Homo sapiens: one gene and its partners. The protein of the gene in region 2 purifies or fractionates together with the protein of the main gene of each other region. This does not show direct contact. Each region holds a gene or a part of one and is shown on either strand. Other genes may lie near its edges.

What was found.
Region 1: the proteins of GAGE1 (region 2) and MIPEP purify together in Homo sapiens (affinity purification with mass spectrometry; one large-scale study listed by BioGRID and IntAct). This does not show direct contact.
Region 3: the proteins of GAGE1 (region 2) and THUMPD3 purify together in Homo sapiens (affinity purification with mass spectrometry; one large-scale study listed by BioGRID and IntAct). This does not show direct contact.
Region 4: the proteins of GAGE1 (region 2) and PRKG1 purify together in Homo sapiens (affinity purification with mass spectrometry; one large-scale study listed by BioGRID and IntAct). This does not show direct contact.

The regions. Positions count from the first base shown.
Region 1 is NC_000013.11:23,727,889-23,735,010, forward strand, and holds the end of MIPEP (mitochondrial intermediate peptidase), read right to left. Parts: exon of another isoform or gene 6,659-7,122; intron 2,558-6,658; coding exon 2,460-2,557; 3' UTR 2,301-2,459; downstream 1-2,300. UniProt on the Homo sapiens protein: Cleaves proteins, imported into the mitochondrion, to their mature size.
Region 2 is NC_000023.11:49,595,021-49,603,697, reverse strand, and holds the start of GAGE1 (G antigen 1), read right to left. Parts: upstream 4,679-8,677; 5' UTR 4,571-4,678; intron 3,532-4,570; 5' UTR 3,524-3,531; coding exon 3,440-3,523; intron 2,975-3,439; coding exon 2,854-2,974; intron 31-2,853; coding exon 1-30. Other genes in the region: GAGE2A (G antigen 2A/2B), read right to left, coding at 6,965-6,987. UniProt on the Homo sapiens protein: Antigen, recognized on melanoma by autologous cytolytic T-lymphocytes.
Region 3 is NC_000003.12:9,371,476-9,379,385, reverse strand, and holds part of THUMPD3 (tRNA (guanine(6)-N(2))-methyltransferase THUMP3), read right to left. Parts: coding exon 7,850-7,910; intron 4,871-7,849; coding exon 4,740-4,870; intron 1,568-4,739; coding exon 1,498-1,567; intron 1-1,497. UniProt on the Homo sapiens protein: Catalytic subunit of the THUMPD3-TRM112 methyltransferase complex, that specifically mediates the S-adenosyl-L-methionine-dependent N(2)-methylation of guanosine nucleotide at position 6 (m2G6) in tRNAs.
Region 4 is NC_000010.11:52,268,370-52,276,279, reverse strand, and holds part of PRKG1 (cGMP-dependent protein kinase 1), read right to left. Parts: intron 4,931-7,910; coding exon 4,791-4,930; intron 3,889-4,790; coding exon 3,799-3,888; intron 1-3,798. UniProt on the Homo sapiens protein: Serine/threonine protein kinase that acts as a key mediator of the nitric oxide (NO)/cGMP signaling pathway. GMP binding activates PRKG1, which phosphorylates serines and threonines on many cellular proteins.

The DNA of each region.
Region 1 (7,122 bases), on a different chromosome or scaffold from region 2:
TTTGTAACTTGTCCTATTGTCTTTTAATTTCTGCCTGTTCTTTATGGCTTTCAACTTCATAAATAACATGTTTTCTCAAATCTCTTTGTGAATTCCAGAGAGGGCCAGGCACGGTGGCTCACATCTGTAATCCCAGCACTTTGGGAGGCTGAGACGGGTGGATCACTTGAGGTCAGGAGTTTGAGACCAGCCTGGCCAACATGGTGAAATCCCGTTTCACTAAAAATACAAAAATTACCCAGGCATGGTGGCGGGCGCCTGTAATCCCAGGTACTCGGGAGGCTGAGGGAGGAGAATCGCTTGAACCTGGGAGGCTGAGGGAGGAGAATCGCTTGAACCCGGGAGGCAGAGGTTGCAGTGAACCGAGATCATGTTGCTGCACTCCAGCCTGGTCAACAGAGCAAGACTCTGCCTCAAAAACAAACAAATAAACAAACAAACAAAACAGAGAGATTTTGCTGCAATGTACAAGGAGCAATTTGCTCCTTTAAAAAAATAATTTTTGGCCAGGCACAGTGGCTCACACCTGTAATCCCAGCACTTTGGGAAGCCAAGGTGGGTGGATCATTTGAGGTCAGGAGTTTGAGATCAGCCTGGCCAACATGGTGAAACACTATCTCTATTAAAAATACAAAAATGTGCTCAGTGTGGTGGTGCACATCTGTAATCCCAGCTACTAGTGAGGCTGAGGTATGAGAATCCTTTGAACCTGGGAGGCGGAGGTTACAGTGAGCTGAGATCATGCCACTGCACTCCAGCCTGAGTGACAGAGCGAGACTCTGTCTCAAAAGAAATAATAATTTTCTAAGTTATGATTTTCCAGCATCTTCCAGGTCAAGTCTTCCTTTCCCTTTTCTGAAGAATGCTTTTAAAAAGGCTCCACATAGACTTCTTTTTTTGGTTACTCACCTCTACAAAAAAGACCTGATAAAGATGCAGGGGTTTTGTCACTGTCGGTGCACCTGGGTGCTGATGAAAGCACTTTTCAGATTTACCTGTAACTGATTTACCTGTAAATGTCTCCAAGTCTGTTTCCCAGAATGAGCTGGCATCTGTGTATTGCCAGTTTGTCAGGATAAGATCTCTTTTTAAGTTAGCTTGGATATTGTAAATAGGGTGAGACATAGAAACAGCAAGATTCCTCCCTGGGCACTGCACCAGAGCCCTTCCTCAAACCTTTGTCTCCGTTCCTCAGCTCTGCTTTGGGTACAGAGGAGACACCACTGCCAGGCTTGCCCGACTCCCTGCCCAAGGCTGTGTGAGCTGCAGTTTCCAAGTGCTGCTGTATAGAGAGAGAAGCTCCAATGGGGAGCAGCAGGGACAGGGACCCACTGCAGCACTCAGTCAAACGCAAAGCCCTACTTGGGGTGCTGGCTGCTCTGCTTTCTGGTCAGTACCGATTTGGATTTCTAAGGGTGAGGAGGAGGTGGGAAAGCATGAAGGGTCGATCCCCCTTGCATCCAGGAGCACCTGGCACAGGCCGGCCACTGATGATGTTTCTCCATCCAGTCCCATCTCTGAGCATGAAGAAATTCCTCCAGATTCTGCAAATAGGTTGAATGTGTGTCCTAGTTTTGGGTATTTTGAATCTTTCCTTTCATCATTGGTCTTTGGTGAGAAGCAAGAAGAGGCTGTTAGCAGATGCCTTTTTAAACTGGAAATTCATAATTTGGTTTTGACTTTAATGGTGGGAAAAACCCATTAAATAATTTATTTCCTGATATTAACCAAAATACAGTATGGTATGCAATACTGTAAAGCAAATGAGTTCCAGATAAAAACAGACATGGTCTGTTTCCTGATTCACCAGTTGCTTGACACTGGTATGTCACTTATTAATTGTACCTGCACTTACTCATTCTACCTTCATTGCCAAGCCAGTCCTCTGTGTTCTGAGTCTATTTGCCTAAACATTCAGGAAAAAACAGTACAGATAATTACATGTATTTTGGAAACCACACTTGGTTTGTTGGTTGCCTGTAATTGACTATTTAAAGTGCATTTTCTAAGCCTACTTTAGATAGTGGTCTTAAGAAATGGTCATCATTCTTAAAAGAACTATAAGTGTAACCTGTCTGAAGACTGCTTCAAACTCTGTCTTAAACAATTTTGCTTTTAGTTAATTATTTAATTAAACCAATTAAAGATCCATGGAAAGAGGGAAAAGCTCAACAGGAGAGTGGTTATACTAAGGAAATGCCCATACCCTCCATTTAACAATGCCATGTAGAAGTGTTGTTGTTACTAGGTCAGAGATTTCCATGTGCTCAAATATTTGCCAAACAGGTGAAAAGCCAGAATAATTAAAACAAATTATTTATTCCAAGTTCTACCAGTTTAAAGTTTTTCAGAATTACAGAAGCGAACAATGAAATCAGAAACAAGCTCTCACAGCTGTAGCATTTATAACAAAGTCATTATCTACATGACCTTGATTTAAGAGGTGTAGAGTGTTTCTTTTATTCAGAATCCATGAGGAAAGTTTCGAAGTCCAGATCCAAGTCGGAAACGAGGGCACTTACGAAGTCATCAACAGAAGGACACTTCTGAAGCATACCTGCAAACAAAGGAAAGGTCAGAACTGCGTTCACCAGGAGGCAACAGGAAGCACAAAGACACAAAATCAAATCCACACACTAGAGGAACACTCTGGCTTTCTGAATTAAGACTCTGGCTGTATAACCTGAATGCAAGAACATTTTATAAAGTCATGGGCAGTGTGTGGGCCTTGGAGCTATTTATAATTTTAATGTATTTTTACTATCAAATCCATCCTTAGCTTAGAGATTTAGGCCTAAATATATTTCCTAAGGGCTATTATTTTTGCATATATGACTATACCCTTAGAGACTGATATTAGAAGACTGATTTTTTTTTAGTTATCTTTGACTGGGATGATTCACAATTTAACAAGTTTAATTACATATCAAGTTTTGTTATCAAGTTCTATACACTTTACAATCAATTAGATGTTAATTCTTTTATAGAAATCTTATATCAGAATCAAGTTATTGGCTCTCCTCCAGATTTCCCTGTCCCAGAGAACTCCTAGCTTTGCAACTTAGTAACTGTGTAACGCAGAAGTCACTTAAAATCTCTGGCATCCAAATTTCCTACAAGGTTGCTATAAGGATCAAACAAGAAGATGTAGTAGAAGCAATGAAGCACCATGCCTAGCATATATTAAGAATTCAATAAAAAGCTGAATTCATGTCCTTTCTTCACTCTAAAGAAGCCAAAAACAAAGATTGATGCAATTAACCTTATTGCTTTAACCTACATTCTTGGCAGGAAATGCTAACTGAAGGGTTGAACAGGCTCTATATACTGATATTTACTTTGGGAGATGAATTCTGTAAAACCATTTTCAAAATCAAGGCATTAAAAGATTGCAGGAATCCTCTATTGTTCTCTGAACCTGTATTGCAATTCAGTGAACATGAAGGAAGCATCTGTTGTGTGTAAAGGATCAGGCCAGGTCATGGGCATACAGGTGGGCAGGCTCAGTCACAACATGAAGAGTGAGAGTAGTCGGCTGGGCAGAACTGCATATCCATACGGCAGAAAACTAGCCTTGACTCCTACTGCATACCATACATAAAAACTAATTTGAGATGGTCACAGACCTAAGTGTAAACACTAAAATTATTATCTTAAAAAAACCGCATGAAGTATCTTTGTGACCCTGAAGTAGGTATAGTTTCTTAGGACACAGAAAGCAATGCATAAAAGGAAAAAATGTTAGATTTCATCAAAATTTAAAATGTCTCTTGAAAAGAAACCATTAAGCCAATGAGTAGACAAATGATAGTTGGAAAAAATACTCACAAAACATATCTCACGTAAGACTGGTATCCAGAAAATATAAAGAACTCCTTTGACCCATTGTAAAAATATGTTTTTTTAAATTACAAATTGACAAAAGATTTTACCTTCACAAGGTCAGGTTTTTCACAGAAGATATCTGAATAAGTAACACAACTAATAGGCACTGAGAAGACATTCAACATCATTAGTCACTAGGGAAATGAAAACCAAACCCACAATGAGATACTATTACACATCCACCAGAATAGCTAATTTTTTTTTTTTTTTTTTTTTTTTTTAAAGACAAGGTCTTGCTCTGTTGTCCAGGCCTGGACAACACAGCATGTGCAGTGGTGTGAACATGGCTCACTGCAGCCTCGACTTCCCAGGCTGAAGTGATCCTCCCGTCTCAGCTTGAGAGTAGCTGGAACCACAGGTGTGTGCCACCATGCCCAGCTAGTTTTTAAACTTCTTGTAGAGATGGGGTCTTGTCATGTTGCCCAGGCTGGTCTTGAACTTCTGGGCTCAAGCGATCCTCCTGCCTTGGCCTCTCAAAGTGCTGGGATTACAGGCGTGAGCCACTGTGCTACACCAAATGTTGACAAGGCTGTGTGCAACCTGAATTGTCATACATTTGTGGTGAAAGGATAAAATGATACAATCACTTTGAAAAAAGGTCTTAACCAGTGTCTTACGAAACTAAACATAGACCTACACTAGGACCCAGCAATTTCACTCCCAGGTATTTATCCAAGAGAAATGAAAGCATATGTCAACAAAGAAACAACTTGTACAACCCCAAGCTTGAAACAACCCAAGTTTCTATCAATAGGACATGAATACACACACTACAATATATTCATATGATGGAATATTACTCAGCAACAAAAAGGAACAAACTATTCATACATGCAACAACACAAACGGATCTCAAAAACATTATGCTGAGTGAGAGAAGCCTTATGTGAAGCAGTACATACTGTTTGATTCCATTTATATGAAGTTCAAAAAGTTAGTCAAACCAATCTATGGTGAAAAAAATCAGAACTGTGGTTGCTTTCGGGAGTGGATATTAGAATCAACTGAGAAGGGGCAGGAGGGCCTCTGGTGTGATGGTCATGTTCTACATCTGGATAGTGATTTGAGTTATAAAGGTGTGTACATGCATCAAAATTCATTGAAAGGTACATTTGAGATTTTGCGTTTCACTGTATGAAAAGTTTACCTAAATACAGTAAGCAACTATTGAACTCTAATGCTATGCATGTAAACGAATCTAGGTGTAAAATGTACTGATGTCTGCTACCTTGAAATGCATAAAAACATAAGGCCAGATACGGAGATGAAGAGATGTAAATATAGGAAAATGTTTACTAAATGGCAAGTATATGAGTGTTGTACTGTTCATTCAATTTTTCTGAATATTTGAAAAATTTTAACATAAAATCTTGAGAAAAAGTAAACTGTAGATGCTAATAGCATACAAAGTGCAGTCAGTGTGGAGAACAGAAGAGAAAGATGAATTCCAATGAAGAGATTCAGCAGGTTTGTGGAGGAGATGGGATTGAGCAGAAACTTAACAGATTGGGCCTTTTAGGTGGAGGAGACAATATAGGAAAGGCACAAACCTGGGGAAATGCACAATGTATGCTGACCAAGAAGTGGTCTGGCGGGTAGAGTAAGGCTGGAAGAGACTCTGGGAGAGGAACATGAGAGGTCCCAGGGCTCTGAACCAGGGCAACCAACAGAAAAGGAAGGACAGACTGGGCTGGAATCCAGGAGGAGCAGGGTGGTGTGGAGACACAACCCTTGTCAAGTTTGAGGTGGAAGGGGACACTCCATGTGGAGACAGTGAGGACACAGAGCTCAGGGACAGCTTGGGGACTAGAGGTGCAGATGTGATCATCCCACCAGAAAGCACATGGGGTGGGAAATAGACCAAGGACTATCTAGATGGTGGACATGAAAATACTTGGTCCAAACACATACTTGAAAGCCCTTAACTAGACCAGGGGTAGTTGAGAACAATACCAATATTGTTACAGTTTCAACTGTAGACTAAAATATTTTCACTGGCTATCTAATGTCTATCTAAATTCTAACAGCTCTATCTTAGGTACTATGTGAGGAATAATGGGCTGTTACTAGTTACTAGAAGAGAATGTCATTGCTGTGTCTATTTGTGCAATTAAAGTTCAAAACACAGTGTTCTTTTTTACAGTAAAATAATCTGCATGCATGAATGCAGGCCTTGCCTCTGGCCCAGCTGTGTCACTAAGGATAGAAACGCTGGGTATGTGATGATGGCTAAAGTAGCACAGTTGACAATCTATCATCTAGATATAGGTTATTACTTAAGTAGACTGAATCTGATTATAAATCAGGTTTCATGCATTCCCTATGTGCCAGGTTTCTTGATACAGAGAACATTTGTAGGGAAAACATTTAATTAAGACATGGCTTTCCATAAAATGTGCTAGCCTATCACGCCATTTCTTCCTTTTTAATATTTGAGGGGTTGCCTCTCTCAGCTTTGGCGCCCTCCTCCTCTGTACAGGGTAGCTTCTTCCTTCTCTTTTCCTTCTTGCTTATTGAACTCTCTGCTCCTTAAAACCACTCCACGTGTGTCCGTGTCCTTGTATCTAAGCTGGCATGAGGACCAAAAACCCTGGTGCTCCACCACTCATCGGAGCCACATCATTTTGGTGCGTTGGCCGAGAAAGGAAATTCATTCATCAGACTGAGTCAAGGAAACTTATTTTAAACTATTTATGGCCTTTAATAATTGAGTAAGGTGTACTCCTATGAACAAAATTTGAAGCATGTTTATTTCTCTGCCTGGTTCCTCTAGAATTTGGAAATTATCTGTCTGGAAGCTCTGAGTTTATCTTGGGACCTCAAGAGGAGAGGATCACCCAACTCACAGCAATCAAACTCCAAATGGTGCTATAAACTGAACCACACATGGACACGTCAGTCTTCCGAGGACCCTTAGATCAACCCCAGGAGGAGCCCTAGCTGCTGTTCCCCATTCGACGCCCCTTTCCAGCAGGAAGTAGCCAGAAGACATCGTCGCCCAAACCTCTAACAGCAGTTAGTGCGGCATCTCCACAGGGGGGAATGTTGTAGGAGTTATTGATAAATTATTTTAGGCAGATAGAGAGGAAAAGGGGTCCTTAGGAAGTTTTTGTTTTTTAAAGCACGTCTGGAAAAGTTTCTTGTAAAGCTCCAGCTCTTAAAGCCAGGCCAGTTACCCGATATCCAAATGCCAGCCATTAGAAAGTGGGTCCACCCAAACATGGCGATTCCTGTGGA
Region 2 (8,677 bases):
GTTCCTGGCTATCAGCTTCAGGCTTCGGCCCTTAAAAATAAAAAATACGTATCAATTTAAGCAGTAAAACATAAAATATGAATAAGAAAATGATATTCATGCTCTCGGTATTATTATATAAAAGCTTTAGCTAACGTAATAATAAATGTGTTGATAAGAATCCCAGGAACATTATTTCAGGAGTCCGTTAGCAGAAAACAGGAAAACAAGGTGTTCCAAATATTACCCTCTTCCTTTCCGAAGACTGCCCTCAGACAACTTTGCTGCCTCCTTTGCACTTCTCTCTTATTCTACTTCTGATTGTCCTTCTCGTATTAAATGACTCAAGGCTCAAATCCCGTCTCTCACAGCACTTACACTCCTAGCGCTTAGACTCTTACATGGCATGAGTAGCCACCAATAAACGCTGAGTGAGAAAACTCTTTTAAAAATACATGAAAAAGCCCAAACTGCAGAATATTCTGCAAACCAACTGGTCTATCCTCTCCAAAAATGTCCGTATCGTGAATGACAAGAAAAATTAAGGAAACATTACAGGTTAAAGGAAACTAAAAACACCTGAAAAGCACATGCAAGGTGTGATTCTGAACTGGACTCTGGATCAGAAAAAGAAATCCTATCAATAAAATTATCTGGGCCGGGCGTGGGGTCTCACGCCTGCAATCCAAACATTTTGGGATGCCAAGGTGGGCAGAGCAGGTGAGGCCAGAAGTTCAAGACCGCAGTGGCCGGCGCCTGTAGTCCCAGCTACACGGGAGGCTGAGGCATGAGAATCCCTAGAACCTGGGAGGTGTGGGTTGCAGTGAGCCGAGATCGCACTACTGCACTCCCACCTGGCCCACAGAGAGAGACTCCGTCTCAACAAAGAAAAAAAAAAGGAAAAAAGAAATTTTCTGGGGAACTGGCAAAATTTGAGTATGCACTCTGTATTAAATGACTCCATTTTCTCATTGTTAAATTTCCTGATTTTGATCTTTGTGCAGTGATGATCCAAGAAATGACTTTCTCTTTGTTCTGACGATAAACACACCCTCAAGTACATAGGGTAAAGGACCATAATACCTGAAACTTTATCGAAACAATTCAGCATTAATAACAGTAAACATATATCCGTATGTGTGTGTGTGTGTGTGTGTGAGTGTGTGGGCAGCACGGTAAGAGACGGAGGGAAGAGATGTGAAACCTATGAAGCGAAAGCTACTAACAATTGGTGAATCCAGATGAACAGTATATGAGTTCATTGTACTATTCTTGCAAATTTTCTATGAATGCTATGACTTGAAGATACATACAGGAAAAATTTAAAAGAATATATGATAACTGCACTGAACTTTAGGAAGAAAGGAATTTCCAATTGTGGTACAAAATACAGATATCCTAAAATTTACCATCTTAACTATTTTTAAGTGGTACAGTTCACTAAGGAGTTACGTTTGCAACATTACCAGCCACTAGGCACAAAAACTTTGCATCTGTGTTTTCCTATACCATGAAAACTTTATTTATTTAATGAATTTATTTATGTATTTATTTATCCATTTATTTATTTATTAGCGATGAGGTCTCACTGTGTTTCCCAGGCTGGGCTTGAACTCCAGGACTCAAGCAATCCTCTCACCTCGGCCTCCCAAGTAGCTGGGACTATGAGTGCATGGCATTCAGCCCAGCTTTAGACCTTTCTCCTAAATGACAATCTAAGGATAAACCACAGGACATGTATAATGCTTATATTCAGCCCTAGAGTACCAACAGCAGTGTGCGTCAGCTGAGAAATCTGAAGTCTACCACGTGGGTAGGATTTCAGTTACAATTACAATGTCAGTTTCTGAAGGATTGATTAGCTGGATGGATTTGAGGACTATGGAAAATCTTACAGTCACGACACCCATTACCTATTGGGGTAAAGAGAAACTTCACTTTGTTCAAATAAAGTTATATTTAGGTCCGAAGGTCCTAAAGGTAATATTCCATAAATGAACCCCGTGAAGAACAAAGCACCAAATATAACATTGTTTGTGAATCACAGAAAATATACTGTCCCCCGCACTGAGAATAAGGGAGTGGGCGGACAGCAATTAATGGGCATTGTTGTCAGTCAGATTCTAGGAACTTTTAACAGTGCATCCCTGGAATAATCCATGACCTCCGTTACATAAATGCTTCCTTTCAAAACATTTTATCTCGGAGAAATTATTTCCATCTCACGTTAATCTCAGGATAATTCCGTTTTTGCTTTTCTAACCATAAAAGGATTTAATCACCTCCTAAAGGCCGCTGAGAAAAATCACTAAACCAGCTACCTGTATGGCAGTATCCTCATTTATCCAGCTTTTATCAAACGTACCATATAAAAATATCAATCAAAGGAAACGGGGGCCAACATTCAGCGACTCGGTTTTTGGAGCTGCTCCTGCTCCTCTGAACTGGGTCTATTCTTGGGTCAGTACTAAGCTACCTTACAGTAAAGCCTTTTGAGTTTTAAGCATTTTCAGCAAAATCACTTCCTTCTTTACAGCAACATACATGATAGGAAGACACAAACCTTGGAACACAGTACAAATGTTGTATTCACCAGTCAAGGGTTCTTGGATAACACACAATCCTGGCACCTCCATTCTCTCATTCATAAAGTCGAGATCTTTTACCATAGTGAGGGATTTGCCTAAGCTAAGCTGCGAACTACATAGCCTCCTCGCTTTTCCAGTCAATTTCAGGCATTCTTTCCATTGTTTTCTTTCCTCCTCTTCCTCCTATGTGACAATGCCTAACACACACACACACACGTGCACACACACACACACGAACACACACACACGCACACACCAGCAGACGTTCTTCTTCCCTTTCCCTCACCTTGACCTGCAGATGCTCCCTCATCCTCTCCCTCCTGAGCAGCTGCAGGATCCTGACGTTGAGTTGCTGGTTCCCCTTCTTCAGGTGTTGCTGGTTCCACTTCATCACTGAACTGCTCGGGCTGGGGAATACGTGTGGGTGTGCAAATAAAAAATAAGTTTCGTTATTGATACAAAATTTTACATATATACACAGAATACATAGCTATTTCTGGTCCTAACTAAGCCTAAAGACATTTCTCCAACTCTATGCTCTATGCCCAATAAGGTTACTCCACCCACAGGGAGGTTACTGTGAGAAAAGTGACGCACGAGGACTTTGGGGGCTATTATACTCTGTGTTGGAATACATGTGTACAATCTGTCATTAACAAACAAAGCCGGAGAAAGAAGTCATGGGCAAAAGCTGAAGAACACGAGAGGAAAAAAAAAATCCTCCAGAATCAATGTTTCCTTCATGAGATGCCATCCTCATTTTTTATGAGCAGGAAAGACCTTTATCAGCATTTCCACACTAATGCAACGACGCTATCACAAAAATTAATTTCTACTAATAGAAAACATCGAATTAACGTTTAAGCACTCACCCGCATAGGCCCAATCATTTCAGGAGGCTGTACATAGCGCCTTGGTCTAGGCCAATAATAGGTCGATCTTCCTCGCCAACTCATATTTCACACTGAAAACAGACAACCGTGATTGGGAACGTGCGCTCCAGAGGGCTGCTATATTCGATCACTTCCATGGATAAATGTTAACTTGCCGTTTTACTTTTGAAAATACTCTCAAAATAAGTCCCAGAGTTAAGCATACGTGTGTACGCTGTCTGAGTGCCTACAAAGCCACTTCTGCTGGCCAGGCTGGCAGAGCAATCATCTTAAGGCGTGTGGCAAAAGGCAGAGGACATTTTTTTCTAAATTTCTTTTGGACACGCGGTCTCGCTGTGTTGCTCAGGCTGGAGTGCAGCGGCGTGATCACAGCTCACTGCAGCCTCGACCTCCCGCTCAAGGGATCCTCCCACCTCAGTGTCCCCAGTAACTGGGAATACGTAGGCGAGCGCCACTGCGCCCCGCAGACAGAGGTCATTTCTGATGAGGTTTAGTTTCACAAGTGCACTCCCCACGAAAACCCTAGTGAATCACAATTCTCGTGATTGCTGCTTTGGGCACACTCCCACTTCCTAGAGCCATTCACCCCCCCTCACAACAAGTTTGGTTGGACCGCACTGCCTCGCCCACTCCTTCCCACTGTTTTCGGACCTTCCATGGCGGAGGTGAGACCTTGCAGTGCTTCTCACTCGGGCGCTCCGCACTCCACACCGCTGAGGGGGCGCTCGCCAGGCCGCAGCCTTCCCAGGTGCCAGGCCCCTTCTTCACCGCCCGCCTCGCCCCCGCCGGGGGCCCCATTCAGGGAATCTGCCCTGTGTCGTCGGGGATCCCGGCACCTCGGGACTTCCATCCCCCCAACAGCACTCACCCCGTCTTCACCTGAGCCCCTGACCGCCTCCCCTCCACGGCCCACCTTCCTCCCCGTCCAGGCCCCTTCACGACCACGAAGCCGCCGGTGGCCTCGCAGCCTGTGAAGGGAAGGAGGACGACCTCGTGGCCCTTCTCCCTCGGAGGCCACAGACCAGGAAGCGGGACCCGCCTGACCCACCCGAGGCCCTCTCCACCCTCACTCACACTTCAGCCCCCGGGATGACTGGCCTGCACACCTACCAGATGAATCTCAGTAGAGGAAAAAGAGTCCGGACGGCAGGAACCACACAGCACTGCCTCACAGCTCCCTGGCGTTCTTCACGTGGGCGAAGGGGCCGGGCAGAAGACGCCCAGTGAACATGCGCACTGAGGCGGGAGCCCAGGGAGCATGCGCGGCTGTGGGCTGGGGAGGGCTGCCGTTCCCAGCGCCACGCCCCAAACCCTCCATGCCCATCCTCATTGAGGATAAGGGAATCCCACCTCCCTCTGCTGTTTCCTATGCCTCTGGGACTCAAGTAGTGCTCCCCTCAAAACTCACCCCATCTTCAACTGAACCCCACCCCCAACCCAGGGCCCTCTCTTGCCCCGGACCCACCATGGGGACAAGGACCACTGTGACTGGCTGGGAAGACAGGTAAACCACCTGCGAAAACAGAAATAGCAACCTATCCCAAAAGGAAATTGTTCAATGTGAACAAGTCAGAGAAAGAGACTGAAAGAAAAATGAATAGAATCGCTAGGACCCGTAAGAAAATGCTAAAACGATATCTATCATTTGTAGCATCAGAATCGCAGAGGGTGAAGTGACAGTATTAGGGAAACAGGACAGCCAGAGTGACACCACGTGAAAATATACTCCGTCTTGAAAGCAGCAAGATACATAGTCCTACCAGTCACAACCCATGGTCCTAAGATGTTTGGAGTTGAGAAAACAGATGAAAGGTACCTCCAAGGACATGCTCCCACAGCAGCGGAAAGTGCACGGTTCCCAACACCCATTAACAATATATGCTTTCAACAGAATTATGCTTTCATGGACTTACACACTGGTAAGTCAAGGACAGTTTTCTTTAAATCAATAGAATGATAAAAGTCATCATGCTCTTAGCCCACCCGCACAAAGGCACAGATTAACTTTAGTCTTTATATAGATAAGACCCCTATATAAGAAAAACCAGACCAGGCCAAGGCTCACGCCTGTAATCCTAGTATTTTGGGAGGCTGAGCTGGCCAGATCACCTGAGCTCAGGACTTCGAGACCAGCCTAAGCAACATCAGAAAATCTCATCACTACAAAAAACAAACAAAAAACCATCGAAAAATTAGCTGGGCATGGTGGCATGTACCTATACTCACAGCTCCTCAGGAGGCTGAGGTGGGAGGCGCGCTTGAGCCCAGGAGGTCAAGGCTGCAGCGAGCTCTGATAACACCACCGCACTCCAGCCTCGGTGACAGAGTGAGACGCTGTCTCAAGTTTTAATAATCGAACCTAAAAACGTACAAATTTATCAATCGAATTCACTATATTAACACATGAATGGGAAAAAACGCTGTGGTAATCGAAATAGATGCACTGTTTGATGAAAATCAACATATATTCAAATGAATACTCTCAGCAAATTTGGAACAGAATGCAATGACTCACTCTGATAAAGTCCGTCTACAAAAAAAGGAGAGTGAATAGGATGGTGAAATGTTGAAATTTTTCGGTTTCTCATCAGGGATAAGACAAGGATGTCCACTGTCACCATTGTAACGGGTGGGTCTGCGCAATGCCATAAAATCAGAAAAGGAAATAAAACTCTTTACAATGGCAACGACGGGCCCGCCACGGTGGCCCACGCCAGTAATCCCAGCACTGTGGGAGGTGAGGTGGGTGCATCACTTGCACTCAAAAGTTCAACAACAGCCCGGGAAACATGGCAAAACCCCGTCTCTACAAAAAAATACAAAAGGGAAAAGAAAAAAATATGGCGGAAACAAAACTGCTCTTATTCCAGGATGATATGTTTCTGTATATTGAAGACTGAAAACGACCTAGAAGTAAACTTTAGAATTCACAAGCATATTTCACAAGGCCGCTGGATAGAAAACCAATATGTAAGAATTATGTCTCCACCGGGCGCGGAGGCTCATGCCTGTAATCCCAGCACTTTGGGAGGCCAAGGCAGGTGAATCACGAGGTCAGGAGTTCAAGAGCACCCCGGCCAAGATGGCGAAAGCCCATCTCTAGTAAAAACACAAAACTTAGCCAGGCGTGCTGGTGGGTGCCTATAATCCCAGCTACTCGGGAGGCTGAGGCAGACAATTGCTTGAATCCGGGAGGCGGGGTTGCAGTGAGCAGAGATCGCGCCACTGCACTCCAGCCTGGGCGACAGAGCAAGACTCCGTCTCAAAAGAGGACAAAGAAAGAAAGAAAAAAAAAAGAACGATGTCTCTACATACCAGCTCAGAGAGTTACAATACACGATTTCAAAGAATGATACATATTTCACAGCATCAAAAAGCTAGAAATAAACTTCACAAAAGATGCGCAAGACTTCTTTGCAGAAGGCTGTAAAGCTTTATTGGGAGAATTTTAATGAACAAATTTCCAACATAGGAGCAGCCTGCATCATTTCAACGTGTCTTCTTTTAACACTGTGATTGCTTTTCACCTGTAACAGAAACACAACGATTGGGAACATGACTTAGCAACAGATTATTCAGATGACCCTAAAGGCATACAAAGCACACTACAGTTTGGGTTTTATTAAATGGACTAAAAACAGAACCCTATGGGTGATCCCGTGTCTTACACGCAATTGAACCTCTGCATAAACTTTGAGCGTAGACCTGCAGAATTTAAAAGGAATTTCCTCCCTGAACATCAAGTGCTTCCTTTCAAGTCACAAGCACTTACAATTAACAGTCAGCAATTTGGAAAACACATGTGTAAAGCATACTTCAGTTGATTACTCAGGAAGTACTAGAGTCATGGTCTTTCAACTTCAAATCTTATCAATTCATGTCTCTAAAGGTGAAACTTACATGTAACATTTGATATGATTAGAGATGATTATATCGTATGTGTGTCTACAGTCTTATTAGAAATAGTGGCTCATGAAGACTGACAGTGGGGCAGGGAGCATGCATAGCACAGGCATCTTACTCACACCCATGCTGAGCATCACTGACCTACATGCCACAGATGATACGAACTAAACGGTCTCTCGCCATTTGATATTTATTTCAGTCACTCAAGGTTTCCGTGGGGAAAGATTTAAGAAGCAATTGTACCATTTGACCCAGCCATCCCATTACTGGGTATATACCCAAAGGACTATAAATCATGCTGCTATAAAGACACATGCACACGTATGTTTATTGCGGCATTATTCACGATAGCAAAGACTTGGAACCAACCCAAATGTCCAACAACGATAGACTGGATTAAGAAAATGTGGCACATATACACCATGGAATACTATGCAGCCCTAAAAAATGATGAGTTCATGTCCTTTGTAGGGACATGGATGAAACTGGAAATCATCATTCTCAGTAAACTATTGCAAGAACAAAAAACCAAACACCGCATATTCTCACTCATAGGTGGGAACTGAACAATGAGATCACATGGACAGAGGAAGGGGAATATCACACCCTGGGGACTGTTGTCGGGTGGGGGGAGGGGGGAGGGATAGCACTGGGAGATGTACCTAATGCTAGATGATAAGATAGTGGGTGCAGCGCACCAGCATGGCACATGTATACATATGTAACTAACCTGCACAACGTGCACATGTACCCTAAAACTTAAAGTATAATGATAAATAAATAAATAAATAAATAAATAAATAAATAAAAGAAAAAAAAAGAAGCAATTGTTCATTAAAAGCCAGAGAAACCCTGCCTGGGCAACACAGTGAGACCTCATCTCTACAAAAATGAAAACAAAAAAATGTAGTCAGGCACGGTGGCTTGTGCATGTAGTTCCAGCCACTCGGGAGGCTGAGGTGGGAGGACGGCTTTAGCCTGGGAGCCAGAAGTTGCAGTGAGCTGAAATTGCATCACTGCACTCCAGCCTGGGTGACACACTGAGACTCTGTCGCAAACAAACAAACAAACCAAGAAGAGGGAGAATTCACAATTTCACAAGATCTTACACTACGTATTCAGCTCTCCACACGGAAAAACTAGGATGAAGCAGAGGGCCCGCTCACTGTCTTACTGACAATGAAATCTCAATTCAGAGATTTTCAGATGACTCGGGCCAGGGTTTCATGATTTGTGATTAACAAACCATGCGAAGCAGATGATCTCTGTGTCCCACGCATTCTATGCAACAGGATCAGAGTATGAAAGAAA
Region 3 (7,910 bases), on a different chromosome or scaffold from region 2:
GCCCAGACACTTGAGGGTGATAACATACCCTGTCTACAATCCTACGATGACATCAAACAAAAGGGAAGTTGAAGTATCCCAGAATTTTGGGTGGGTGGGGATGTAGAGGGGACCTAGAGTTTGAGGAAGGCTCTCAGTGATTCCGATTCCCAAATATTCTTTTTTTTTTTTCCTAAACCTATTTGGATTTTCAGCATTGGAAAGAATTGGGTTTTATAGCATAACACTTCTAAATTAAAAAAAAAAATTATTCTAGATCAAGTATTTTATACTTTGGTGAACAAATCTTTATATATACCTTGTCAATTTATTCATAATTTTATTCATTTTGATCATATATCGGCTTAGGTTTTTCTACATTGACATCTGCATGTCTACTCTTACATGGAAATGGCTCAAACTTCATGTTTTAATTTTTTTCGGCCTTTATTTTTACTCGGAGCTCTGTTGTGTATTTCTTGACATGCGGTGACCTTACCTGCTATTTCATACACATATCATGATTTCATACTAGAAAACAACACTCTGCTTTCTTCCCAGAATCCTTCTTGGCCACAAGAAGGACTGGGTTTTTACTGTGCAGTCTCTTTAAGCCACAGTAATTTCTCTAGCTTTCACGGAACACAGTCACATGTAGACTTCTATGATTTCAGTCTTGGATTTTAACTCCCAGAACAGATACCATTTTCTAATTACAGTTTGGATTATTTCTCCCCTTGTGGGCTTGCTTTGGACTTGCTCATCTGTCCAGTTTCTACCCAATCATATAATCTGCTGTGTCTCCCTGCAGTTTATTCAAATTGGCTGTCAGTATACTATATGGAAGAACTACTATGTTTCACACAAACTTCAGTGATTTTACTGGGAGCTCCCTCTTCTAAATTCTTTAAAAACATATAGATGATACTGATTATTCAAGGGGAATCTACTGTGAAATATTCTCCATTTAGAAAATGCCTTTCCATTTCTTGCTTTGCTTTACACAGTTTTTATGAGTCCTCTCAATATCATGGTAATTTTGAAAACTAAGAGCATTTGGTATTAAGCTTGTTAGACTTCCTAAAAAATCCAAGTAATGTTCATAAGTTTCCCCTTTTTACAACTATACTTATTCCCTCTAGGAACTTAAGTGGATTACAGAGAAGAAAATTGCCTTCCTCCAGTTTATGCTTATGCCTTCAATTATCTTTTCCCATTCAAGTCTACCAGCTTGTCTGTTACACAAAGAGGACTCATCGGCAGTTTGTAATTCTCAGCTTCCTCTGTAATCTAGTGAATAGATGTCACTAACAATGTATCTAGGCCAGTGGCACATGGCTCTTTGAAATAAGTAGTTACATTCTTTACAAAAAAGTTCCACTTTCTATTGTTAATTGTTTTAAAACTCTTGGGTCCACTGATCCAACCATGGAGATTTCATTATGTCTAATTTGCCCATTAGGTCTAGAATATTCTGGATGTATCACTCTTATCTAAAAGCTAAAGAAATATGATTACCTCTATTGGTATTGCCCCAGTTCCACACATTGGATCGACTATTATATCATAAGGTAGAGGATCACAGAGCCTAGAGAAAAGAAAACAGCCTATGTGAAGACTCACTCAAAAGCTGAGGCTTCTATACTGATGATTCCTGAAGCTTTAAGATTGAGGACCTACCACACTAGCCCGAAGGAACACCAATCTACACATATTTTAGAAATCAATTTGTGGCCGCGCACGGTGACTCACGCCTGTAATCCCAGCACTTTGGGAGGCTGAGATGGGTGGATCGCTTGAGGTCAGGAATTCAAGACCAGCCTGGCCAACATGGCGAAACCCCGTCTCCACTAAAAATACAAAAAATTAGCTGGGCGTGGTGGTGGGTGCCTGTAATCCCAGCTAGTACAAAGGCTGAGACTCGAGAATTGCTTGAACCCAGAAGGCGGGGATTGCAGTGAGCCAAGATCATGTAAGATGCAGCCTGGGTGACAGAGCAAGACTCCGTCTCAAAAATAAATAAATAAATAAATAAAATCAATTTATAATGATATGTTGACTGTATATTCCATTACTTGGGGAAAAAAAATCCTTATAACTAAATCTCCTTTGACTATCTTCCAAAATCCCATTTCACTCTCAGATGAAATTTAGTTTGCAGACATCTTAAAGTACACATGTGTACACACACACACACACACACGCTCATGCATACTTTTTGACAACAGTGTTGTTTTCAACAGAAACCTGTATTACATTAAAAAGACTCAAAAATGTCTCAAGTCAAACATGCATCAATATAAGGTTACTGGCAATGAGACATTCAGTATTCCTTTCCTTCTGAATTTAAAGCTAATCTTGATATAAAAAAATTGCTCTGTGGGACTAGGTAATAAAAAAAGGAAAAAAAAATGCTTTACTTTGAGCACTTAGTATTTCCTGGGCATGGACTTAAGCTCTTTCCATGCATTATCTCACAGAATCCTCAGTAAGGACCCTGTTAGATAATTATCATTATTCTCATTTTAAAGGTAAGCTGATGCAAGGAAACATGAAGTTACCTGCCCAGGGACACAAAACTAGTAGGTAACAGATTCAAGATTAGAGGCATTACTGTTAGTGGCTTAACTGTTATCCTCTTTATGAAGCATCCCACCCTGAAACAGGTCAGTAGGTTTCTTCCCTTCTCTTGTTCTTCTAATCTTTTCATGTGCTGGTGTGGGACTTATCGCATGTATGATAACTATTTATCTCCCTCACAAGACAGATTCTTGGGGGTTAATAGTGGGTTCTTATTGTAACATTGGTCCTGCTCTATCTCCTTGCTCCTACTCCTCAACACATGGCAATAGAATCCTTGGCAACCCTCTTGAGGGGGTAAGCACCCTGTACTCCAAGCCATTCCTGATGGTCAGGGGTGAATATCTGACCAAAACAATGTCCATCAGATCCTCTCTTCCAGGAATTTGGAACAAAGAGCTAAAAGCCCTAGGCAGTGTGGGTTGGTCGTTTGGAATTGGAAATACATAAATTTAGATGAGAAAGCATGTAGATGAGAAGAGACAAGAGTCCACAGGCTCTAAGGGGAGATAAAAATGGCTGCCTACATTTCTGGTGGTTTTCCAAGATGTGGTTCCTACCCTTCTTGAGAACCAACATTCAGTTTTTCTGTAGAATCCCCAAGATTTCTCTTTATCTTTCCAATAAACCCCTCTCTGGCACAATTATCACTTTTTTATCCTAAACTTGATTACTTAGGTTTTAAATATTTGCACCCAAAATAACACCCTCTCTGTATCCCTGGTTTCTACCATATGCCTGGCAGTAGATAATGCATATTTGTTAAATTAATGAAGACTAGAAGATTTTCCTTTATCAAATGGGCCCAATTTTCTATTATCGTCATTGAATTAATATGTTAGGAAGATAAAAGATTGGAAGAGAAGGAATACAGTCGTGTACTGCATGACAATCTTCCAATCAATGGTGGACCAAATATATGAATGCAGTAATTATAATACCATATTTTGCCCTATCCTTTCTATGTTTAGATACACAAATACCACTGCGTTACAACTGACTACAATATTCAGTACAATAACATGCTGTACAGGTTTGTAGCCTAGGAGCAATAGGAGATACCACATAGCCCAGGTGTGTAGTAGGCTACACCATCTAGATTTGTGTAGGTACACTCCATGAGGTTCGCACAATGATGAAATTGCGTGATGACACATTTTTCAGAATGTATCCCTGTCATTAAGTGATGCATGACTGGACTTAACTACCAGGACATACCAGGCACTGTATATAATAGGTATTTTGCATATGCTTCAGCATTTAATCCTCACTAATAATCCTTTAAGTCTCACATCAAATCCATTTTGCCATCTGGAAAACAGAAGCTTTAGAGAAAATAAACATTTTCAAGTGGTGGAAAGAAGCACCCAATAAAAGAGAGAAGGGCAAAGGAGAAGGAAAGATAGGTCGTGTACTCTGAAAAGCAAAAAATTCTAGGATGATTCCTGAGTTGCTGTGAGTATAAAGCTTAAAAATATAAGTAAAAGCTCTTTCTGTTCATTTACACGTTATACACATAAAAATCTCTGCTTTCATCTTTTTCACTGCACAGAAATGAAACAGCAAAATTTACTCTTATCTCCCAACACACATATCCTTGCTAAACAGAAATGTGGTAACCTCATTCAAGAGGCAGGTGAAAACTATTACTCTCATTTTAAAATCAAGAAAACCGGGCGCGGTGGCTTACACCTGTAATCCCAGCACTTTGGGAGGCCGAGGCGGGTGGATCACCTGAGGTCAGGTATTTGAGACCAGCCTCGCCAACATAGTGAAATGTCGTCTCTATTAAAAAAATACAAAAATTATCTGGGCGTGGTGGCAGGCACCTGTAATCCCAGCTATTCGGCTGAGACAGGAGAATCGCTTGAACCCGGGAGGCAGAGGTTACAGTGAGCTGAGATCTCGCCACTGCAGTCCAGTCTGGGCGACAGAGTGAGACTTTGTCTCAAAAAAAGAAATAAAGAAAACTGAGCCACCTATTAAGCAGTATTTTCAGATCACAAGGAGTCAATATTGGATAGAAGGGAAAGAAATAGATCATTAGCTTTCCATTCTATTCTTTATCCACTCTATTCCAACACAGTACCTCAAACACACATACACACAAATCAGTATTTTGAAGGGAACATTCAAACCAAGGTGCCACTTTAAGCTGGATGGCAAACTCATTTTCTTACCTGAGCATCCCATAGGCAAGAGTTGATCTAAGAGTTGTAGGTCCAAAATGTGTTATATTTCTTCGGTGGAGACTCTCTTCAGTCAATGCAATGCCCACAATGACTTCATTATCATGGATGTTCAAAAGAACCTATAGCAAAGTGGAACAAGACAAAATAGTTTTAGGATTGTTCAAACTGCGCTTAGTAATAAGACTTTTCTGACCTGGGCCGGTTCACCCCTCCTTAGGCAACCTGTTGGTCCCCTACTCCTGGGAGGTCACCATATTGATGCCAAACTTAGTGCAGACACCTGATTGGCATAGCGCACCACAGCCCAGAACTGTCTAAAAAGTTAAGACATTTAAAAAATACATATTAAAAAACCTCTAAGCCTTCAAAATATGTTTGTGTTATAAAAATTGGGGTGAAATCTGGTTGTAGCCAATAAACATAGTGAATTAAAAGAAAATAATAGATATTAAAATGAACGAAAAAAACTATATACTATATGATTTCATTTATATGAAGTTCAAAAATTGGCAAAACGAATTTTTGGTGGTAGCAGTCAGATTAGTGATTGCCTTGAGTGGGTACTGACTGGGAAAGGGCAAGGGGAGCCCGAGGTACTGGAAATAGTTTGTATCTCTATCTGGATGCTGTTTACACATCGTGTATATAAGTAAAAACTTACTGAAAACTTAAGATTTGTGTACTTAAGGGGTGCAAAGTGTATCTCAACAAAAAAGTTTTAAAAATTGGTAAAGTCTCAAATAAAAAGTCTTATTACACTGAGTGCAGTGGCACAGGCCCACAGTCCCAGCTACTCGGGAGGCTGAGGTGGGAGGACAGCCTGAGCCTGGGAGGTCAAGGCTTTAGTGAGCCATGATTGCACCACTGCACTCCAGTCTGGGTGATACAGCGAGACCCTGTCTCAAAAGTGAACTAAACTAAACCAAAATGTTCCCCAATCTTTCACTGAAAGACTTCCTGAGCTTAACCACAGCAGAAGCACAGCTGATACTCATACAGCACTTCCTAATGCAAAGCACTATTCTACACATTTTACATACATGGCCTCATCTCATATTCACATCCCCTAAGCTAGGTATTATTCCCTTTATAAATGAGGATACTGAGGCACAAAGACAGCTCCTCAGGAATTCCCTTTTTGAGACAGGGTCTCACTCTGTCGCCCAGGATTGAGTGCAGTGGCATGATCACAGATCACTGTGGCCTGGACTTCCTGGGCTCAAGCAATCTCTTACTTCAGCCTCCCAAGTACCTGGGACTATAGGTGTCTGTCATCATACTCAGCTAATTTTTTTTTTATTTTTTGTAGAGACAGGGTCTCCCTATGTCGCCTAGGCTGGTCTAGAACTCCTGGCCTGAAACAATCCTCCAATCTTGACCTCCCAAAGTGCTGGGATTACAGGTGTGTGTCACCACACCCAGCCTCCTCTGGGATTTAAACCAATGCAGCACGGCTCCAGAAACTCCTCTGAATCACCTTGCTAACTTTTAGACATCACTGTTCTGGTTAACCTATTCATTTTATTTTTTAAAATATTTATTTTATTTTTAGTGGAGACAGGGTCTCACTATTTTGCCCAGGCTGGTCTCAAATTCTTGGGCTCAAGCGATCTGCCTGCCAAGGCCTCCCAAAGTACTGGAATTACAGGTGTGAGCCACGTATTCATTTGCAAGGCAGTGTATGAGGAAAAAAAGGAATGGGGAATTAGACTCCTGATTTGACATGCACAAAAAAGTTAGAATCAGTGACTTGCCCCAGATTCAAGTGTCCCAAAAGCAACGGAAATTGACTCTTTGGTAAATATATCAGCTGCTAGAGATGTTTTAAGGTGTCAGAGACTTAAATACTTTAGTTCCTATGGTTCACATGTCAATCACCCAGATAAAAGAGGATTAAGACCAAGGAAAGTAAATATACTAAAATGAGGTACCTGGCTTTGGAAATCTAGCAGAATTTAAGAAAGAGGAGAGCTGACTCTAGGATGAGTATTAGCAATGATGTCCTGGTTTGAGAAGGTCAGGGTTTGTTTAAAAAATGCACTTTTTTTTTTTTTGGAGATGGAGTCTTGCTCTGTCACCCACGCTGAAGTGCAGTGGCATGATCTTGGCTCACTGCAACCTCCACCTCCCTGGTTCAAGTGATTCTCCTGCCTCAGCCTCCCCAGTAGCTGGGACCACAGGAGTGTGCCATCATGACGGGCCAATTTTTGTATTTTTAGTAGAGACAGGGTTTCACCATATTGGCCACGCTGGTCTCAAATTCCTGACCTCAAGTGATCCACCTGCCTCGGCCTCCCTCCCAAAGTGCTGGGATTACAGGCGTGAGCCACTGCGCCCAGCCTTATTTTATTTTTTCAGTAGCAAAGCTCTGCAACCAAGACACACAAAAACAAAATAACTATTTTAATTCTGGTTGAATTTTATAATATGAAAGTCCATATAATATAGTAAAAGAGTAGTCTATTAGAAATCAGGCCAGGTGCAGCTATAATCCCAGCACTTTGGGAGGCCAAGACAGGCAGATCACTACAGGAGTTTGAGACCAGCCTGGCCAACAGGGTGAAACCCCATGTCTATTAAAAAATACAAAAATTAGCCAGGTGTGGTGGCATGTGCCTGTAGCCCCAGCTACTTGGGAGGCTGAGCACAAGAATCACTTGAACCAGGAAGGTGGAGGCTGCAGTGAGCTGAGATCGTACCACTGCACTCTAGCCTGGGTGACAGAGCAAGACTCTGTCTCGAAAAAGAAAAAGAAAACAGACAACTCAACCTTGATGGCTTCCATCTATGGAGCACTTAGTGTATGCAAGGTATTGCACCAAATATTTTAAATGTACCTCATTTATCCTTCAGGATAACCTTAAAGGTACATAATATTATTGGCTCCATTTGAAACAGAGGCTCAGAGACTATCTAGTCCAAAGTTATACAGTTGTGGAGTTAAAATTTGGATCTAAATCTGTCTCCATAGCCTATGCTCTTCTTAACCACACCCTACTATTTCCTCAGTTTAATTGTGCATAACATTGGGTTAGTCTGGAAATTCTACAAATCTGTGACAGCATTCTTCAATCACCACAGTCAGAGCCTATACCTACCTCCACATCAAAGTTGGTCATGTCGGCCTTCCACTTAAAATAATCTTGAACAGCACCCCCA
Region 4 (7,910 bases), on a different chromosome or scaffold from region 2:
CATTCCCTCTGAGAACTGGAACAAAATAAGGATGCCCACTCTCACCACTCCTCTTCAACGCAGTACTGGAAGTCCTAGCCAGAGCAATCAGAGAAGAGAAAGAAATAAAGGGCATCCAAATCGGTAAAGGGGAAGTCAAACTGTCACTGTTTGCTGACGATATAACCGTTTTCCTGGCAAACCCTAAGGACTCTTCCAGGAAGCTCCTAGAACTGATAACAGAATTCAGCAAAGTTTCTGGATACAAGATTAATGTACAAGAATCAGTAGCTCTTCTATACACCAATGGTGACCAAGTGGAGAATCAAATCAAGAACTCAACCCCTTTTACAATAGCTGCAAACAAACAAACAAAAAACCAAAAACTTCGGAAAATACCTAACCAAGAAGTTGAAAGACCTCTACCAGAAAAACTACAAAACACTGCTGAAAGAAGTCATAGATGACACAAATGACACAAACATCCCATGCTCATGTGTGGGTAGAATCAATATTGTGAAAATGACTATACTGTCAAAGCAATCCAAATTCAATGCAATCCCTATCAAAATACCACCATCATTCTTCACAGAATTAGAAAAAAAATTCTAAAATTCATATGGGATCATAAAAGAGCCCACATAGCCAAAGCAAGATTAAGCAAAAAGAACAAATCTGGAGACATCACACTAACTGATTTCAAACCATACTATAAGACCATAGTCACCAAAACAGCATAGCACTGGTACAAAAATAGGAACATAGACCAATGGAACAGAATAGAGAACCCAGAAATGAACCCAAATACTTACAGCCAACTGATCTTTGACAAAGCAAACAAAAACATAAAATGGGGAAAGGACACTCTTTCAACAAATGCTGCTGGAATAATTGGCTAGCCACAGGTAGGAAAATGAAACTGGATCCTCATCTCTCACCTTGTACAAAAATCAACACAAGATGGATTAAGGACTTAAACCTAAGATCTGAAACTACTAAAATTCTAGAAGATAGCATTGGAAAAACCCTTCTAGACATTGGCTTAGGCAAAGATTTCATGACCAAGAACCCAAAAGCAAATGCAATGAAAACAAAGATAAATAGCTGGGACCTAGTTTAACTGATGAGCTTTTGCATGGCGAAAGGAACAGTCAACAGAGTAAACAGACAACCCACAGAGTGGGAGAAAGTCTTCACAGTCTATACATCTGACAAAGGACTAATATCCAGAATCTCCAGCAAACTCGAACAAATCAGTAAGAAAAAAACAAATAATCCAATGAAAAGTGGGCTAAAACATGAATAGACAATTCTCAAAAGAAGATATACAAATGGCCAATAAACGTATGAAAAAATGCTCAACTTCACTAATGGTCAGGGGAATGCAAATCAAAACCAAAAGGTGATACCACCTCCCTCCTGCAAGAATGGCCATAATCAAAAAATCAAAAAACCAATAGATCCTGGTGTGGATGGAGTGAACAGGGAACACTTCTACACTACTGGAGGGAATGTAAACTAGTACAGCTGCTATGGAAAACAGTGTGGAGATTCCTTAAAGAACTAAAAGTAGAATTACCATTTGACCCAGATGAAAAGAAGTCATTATTCAAAAAAGATACTTGCATACTCATGTTTATAGAAGCACAATTCACAATTGCAAAATCATGGAACCAAATCAAATGCCCATCAATCAATGAATGGATAAAGAAACTGTGATATATATATGAGGGCATATATATATATGATGGCATGTGTGTGTGTGTATATATATATATATATGATGGCATGTATATATATATATGTATATATATGATGGAATACTACACAGCCATAAAAAGGAATGAATTAACAGCATTTGCAGGGAACTGGATGAAATTGGAGACTATTATTCTAAATGAAGTAATTCAAGAATGGAAAACCAAACATCACATGTTCTCACTGATATGTGGGAGCTAAGCTATGAGGATACAAAGGCATACGAATGATGCAATGGGCTTTGGGGATTTGGGGGGAAGAGTCGGAGGGGGGTGAGGGATAGAAGACTACAAATATGGTGCAGTACATACTGCTTGCGTGATGGGTACACCAAAATCTCACAAATCACCACTAAAGAACTTACTCGTAACCAAATATGACCTGTACCCCAATAACTTATGAAAAAATAAAAAAATAATAAGCTATAAGAGGGATAGCTGGGCTCTCCCTTTGTGGCTTATTATTGCTTTCATGTTTAATTCCACCTGTAAATCTTCTTCTATTCTAATTAGAAAAAAAAGTAGAAGACTTCAAATAAATCAGTGAATTGAAATATCAAGTCAAATATAATACAGTAGAAACACATTAGATATGCCAAATGTTAACTCACAGATTAAAATATTAACTTTGTGCCACAAACTATACATTCTGAGGAGAGAGACCCCATCTGTTTTGTTTATTACTGGATCCCCAGCCTCTATCACAATGCCTGGTATATAATCTCTATGTACATATTAACTAGCAATAATACATAATATATACACTATGATATAATAGCTTAGTATAGATGTTAACCTTATCGCCTAATGCCAACATGATTACATTCCCTTTTATGCTTTTTTAACCTTAAATTTAAGAATTGAAATAAAATACCGATGCAATAGGATACAATGTGGTAACAAGAAATCCATTTGGCATATATAAGAAAGGCCATGGGAATAACACGAAAGGGCCTGTTGTACAAAGATATGAAGGTACCATAAGAACACCATTAGGAATGAGAATTTAAATCAACAGTTCATAAGGAACCACTTGTTTTATTCTGGGGTATCTGCAAAGTAACAAATATAAAAACATTACATGGTTATATACATCAGGGCTACCTATAGCTAAGTTTCAGAAGGATGCTACCCTGTGAAGGAGAGTCTGGGAGGCAGGACTCAAACAAATAAGAAAAATACAGATGTCTAAATGTGAGTGTTCAAAAGAACAAAGATGACTTTTGTATGATCAATAAATCATTCATGGAAAATAATCAAAAGATTATTCATAGGAAAATAAAAGTGTGTTTTTAAAAAAACACAGGGTAGATAATGATCTCCTGAGACATTTTATAGGATAAATTATATTAGAAGATAATTAGATAATTTGCTAGTTATCTAAATATGAGATGGAAAATTAAGACAATGAATTTGCATGATTAGAACAAACAAGCACCATGTAGACAAACTTTCCTTGCCCTGGAAGGGTAAGAAGGTAAATCTAAATCAGATAATTTACATGAAATATTGCTTATAAGTGGATTCTTTTCTTTTTCCTAAGACTAGCCAAGGGATAAAGAGATGGCTGGAAACTTTTGTTAATTTTGAAACCAAAGAGCCATGTAAAGGTAGAGGGAAAAATTACTTTGGAAAAAATTCACAATGTCACAAAAGGCAAACTGCCTATCTGGAAAAAGAGTAGAGCAATTAAACTGATAGTTAATTCAAATTATAATTATAAAATAACTATAATTCTCTTTCTGCTAAAGCAATGAATTGAATTCCAGCTACAGAGCTAATTCTAACATTCATGCAAAACTAAGGCCATGTATATATTTTGCTATGTACCATTTTTATGATCGACTAAGCCTGTATTGTTAGTTACAAAGTGAGTTTTGTTATATGTACAGTAAATCATATGTGTATAGTGGGTTATGCCCTGTGCTTACTTTAAATATTGAAATATAAGCATGTGTAAATTATAAATATGATTATTATACTTTATCATATTAACTCTTCTTATAGACCAACATGGGCAACTGTTTTTAGAGATATCATAGAAATTTCTTAAATCTCCTACCTATCCCTGAGAATGGTCCAGAGCTCTCCACCTAGACAAGCTTCCATCAACATATACAAATATTTGCTGTCCTTAAATGTTCTGTACAGTCTGTAAATTGCAAACAAGAAAACAAAGATTATAAACATTACTGTCTTTTACAAGTGTGCAATTTTGGGGGGCCCAGATTATAGTTTTGATTTGCCAAGCTCAAAATTTTGTCAGAATGAGAGAGATCTAAGCCCACACATGGGGAAAAGAAGCCAATGGCTCATGAATAGGATTTTAATAGAAGAAACTAAGGCGCTAATCTCTCCCTTGAAATGGATTAATCATAATGATTATGGACAAAGAGGGTTTCTTGGGATTCTTTCCATTCCAATTTGGGTAATGTTTTGAGCATAGACCCTTGGGGCAACATTTAGTGGTCATCAACATGCAGTGAAAATGGGAATAAAGTGGATTAAACTTTACAGATTCAGACATGTATAAATTTCATATGCTATTCGCTCAAATTCATGTTACATCTTGTTTTCAGTAAATGCCACTGGAAAATTCACTACAAAAAGCTGCTTCCACATATAAAAATCTCCCCATTATCCATTTATTAGTACTGAGGTGGAATGGTCAGCTGTCATTTCATTTTTTTAGATCTTCAAAAAATATTCAGATAATTAAAGGTTAAATAGTTTGATTTTGGATATTTTGTCTTTTAAGCATCAAAGGTCTATGTAGAGTTTGGGGATTTAAAAAAAGATAAAAATGGAATGTTAGAAACTCTGGTACCTCCTTTGGGAAAACACATTGTTTTCAGACACTAATTCTCTTTAAAAGAAAGAATAGAGTCAGAACTTTATTTTTAGAAATCAAACAAAACTTTCTTAAGATTAGATTAAAAAGAAGTTTCTTTGTGCATACGAAATGTGTTAACAGTGAGCACAAGTGGCAGAGGGTTTTGTGGTGGATTTGTCACTTGGAGTTGGGTACGTCTGTCCCTGGCATGGAGCCTTTACCTCACTATGAAATCGGAATGAGCCCCCTGCATGATCTGCTTCTCTGAGCGGATGTGCTCCTGCTGTCTTGTGTCCACAATGTGACGTTTCTTGAGAATCTTCATTGCAAACGTTTTGGATTCTTCACTTTTCAACTGGACCTTAAAGAAAGAGAGAAGAGAGTAAGAAAAAGCCCATAGACTTGTAAGAGTGCATTATTATCCCCAAATTAACAGGTACATGGCGCACTTAAATGAACCTCAGCCACCTCCCAAGTCAAAACACAGTAAATCCTTGGTAGAGCTGCGTTTAACATCCAGGGCTCACAGCTATCATCCAATCTCATGCTCTGAATTGGCTGAATTTTAACTAACTTGATTCCAAATTAATTGTGTTCACGTGTGGATTAGAAGAGGGAAAATGTACTTAGTTCTAGTTTTATTATTTCATGTCATAGAGTGTGTTTGAATACATTTTATAGTTCTTCTGTCAAAAGAGTAGAAAAAAAACTTCTTTTCCAATTTTATTTCAGTAAAGATGGCCAAAAATAGGGTTATATGGGCCTTTATATTCTTCCTCCTTAGTTCTAATCCACAAACATTTCTAATTTTTTTTATCTTTTTTTTAAAATTTTATTATTATTATACTTTAAGTTCTAGGGTACGTGTGTACAACGCGCAGGTTTGTTACATATGTATACATGTGCCATGTTGGTGTGCTGCACCCATTAACTTGTCATTTAGTATTAGGTATATCTCCTAATGCTTTCCCTTCCCCCTCCCCCCACCCCACAACAGTCCCCAGTGTGTGATGTTCCCCTTCCTGTGTCCATGTGTTCTCATTGTTCAATTCCCACCTATGAGTGAGAACATGCGGTGTTTGGTTTTTGGTCCTTGCGATAGTTTGCTGAGAATGATGGTTTCCAGCTTCATCCATGTCCCTGCAAAGGACATGAACTCATCATTTTTTATGGCTGCATAGTATTCCATGGTGTATATGTGCCACATTTTCTTAATCCAGTCTATCATTGTTGGACACTTGGGTTGGTTCCAAGTCTTTGCTATTGTGAATAGTGCCGCAATAAACATACGTGTGCATGTGTCTTTATAGCAGCATGATTTATAATCCTTTAGGTATATACCCAGTAATGGGATGGCTGGGTCAAATGGTATTTCTAGTTCTAGATCTGTGAGGAATCGCCACACTGTCTTCCACAATGGTTGAACTAGTTTACAGTCCCACCAACAGTGTAAAAGTGTTCCTATTTCTCCACATCCTCTCCAGCACCTGTTGTTAACATTTCTAATTTTTAGCTTGAGTGGTGGACCCTAGTCTCTGCTGAGACTGCAGACTGTTATTTCTTCAGTACTGACTGTATTCATTTCTTCTTTTTAACCTTGCAGAATTTTCCCTCCCTACAGTTTAAAGAGAAAAAAAATTGTAACAAGATTTTTTCAGGAGATTTTGAAAACCGTTTGTTTTTCTTCTCAAACAAGCATGATGGCTTTAGTTCCTTTGACCTCAAACTTTACTCTCTAATAACTGGGAAGACTTGGAGGCTTAATATCTTTCAATGTGCCATGCCTCTCTTGCAGCCCTCATGGCTCCCAGTGGCTCCAGAGGAGGCATGGATCTTCCACATGCCTTACTCAGACAGGGTGCTGTTTATGGTTTTACAAGAAATTTCAAGAAGGTGACTTGTAACAAAAACAAGAGAGGTAATAGAGCTAATTACTTAAAAGCAATGTAAGGACATTATCATCTAGTGCTCTCAAGCAGCAGAATCCTCAAGATGATACCAAACAGCCCATATTATTTGGGAGTAATGTAACCTTGGGGAAATAACATGGCATGCTGTTTCTGCTTTTCAGCTGAAGTATGGCTGTCCCCTCTTTAGTCGTTAATTATTTACTGCTTCATCAGCAGGGATAGCGAAGGTCTTAAGTGTCTTGTTCCTGCACACATGTACAGATTGAGTTCAATCTTCGAAGATATTCATGTGGCAAGTTCCTTAGGAGGGAGCATGAAGATACTGCAAATAAATGGGCCTCGGTTAGCTGCCAGCAATTGTGAATCAGTATGACAGGTAGAGGGAAAAATGGGTATTTGAAAATGCTTTTAACAGCCAAAGACCCTGTACTCTGGCTGTGAAACTCAAAGATGACAGATTAGTGTGCTACAAATAAATTCAGTAGTAACTCAAAATAAAACACCAAATGTGAAAACTCACTTCTAAAAGAAATCTGGAAAGCTAGGGAAGATGGCATGAAAAATGAGCTATGTTAGAGTACTACAATTCAGAGAAGAAGAAGTAAAGTCATATTCCCTCTTCAGAGTCATTCCCAGTTAAACTAGTGAGGACTGTTGTGCAGTTGTTCAAAAATGCCTACTATAAAAATGATTCTCTTTAGTGATGATAACACAGATACACAGATTTTTTTTTTTTTATACTTGTACACAGGGTAGGAGGAAAGAATTCAGCCTTTATAGTCACAGGTCTGGACTTGAATTCTGACTCCACTTAGTCCCTCTCAGTCTAAGCAACTAGTCTCTCTCGGGCTAGTTGCTTAACTGCTCTGAGCCCTAGTTCTAGCTGAGGATAATACCAGATACCACAGTTATTATGATCCTAAATGAAAACGCACCACCAAATGGGCATTCATTGATGGACTCTGCTTGTACCCAGCAATCTCTACTGAATAGGGCAAATCAAATGTTGCTTTTTCAGAGGAACAAACTGATTTCCAAAAATGATTCCTATCTTTCCCAAGGTCACAGAGCTATCAAGTGGCAGAAATGGATTCATGTTCAGGTTTTTTTTTGGCCCAAGCTATTTCCAGTATATGCTGCTTCCCTTCAGCTGAATACAAAACCAATTAAATGCATAGTGATTGATACTTTGCAAATCAGAGTTTAACGGAATCGACTAACTCATGGACTGTGAGATAAACTGAACAATATTTCTATTACCTTTAAGCTTAACTTATGCTAGGCATGTGATTTGGGAGAACAGCCAAAGCCTCACTGACATTTTCCTAGGCACTTCCCAGGGACCTCCATGTGTTAGGGGTTTGAGATACCCGATTGCTTGAATACTGCAAGGAGAAGCCAAGTGGGGTAGAAAGAGGATAATGAGAACTG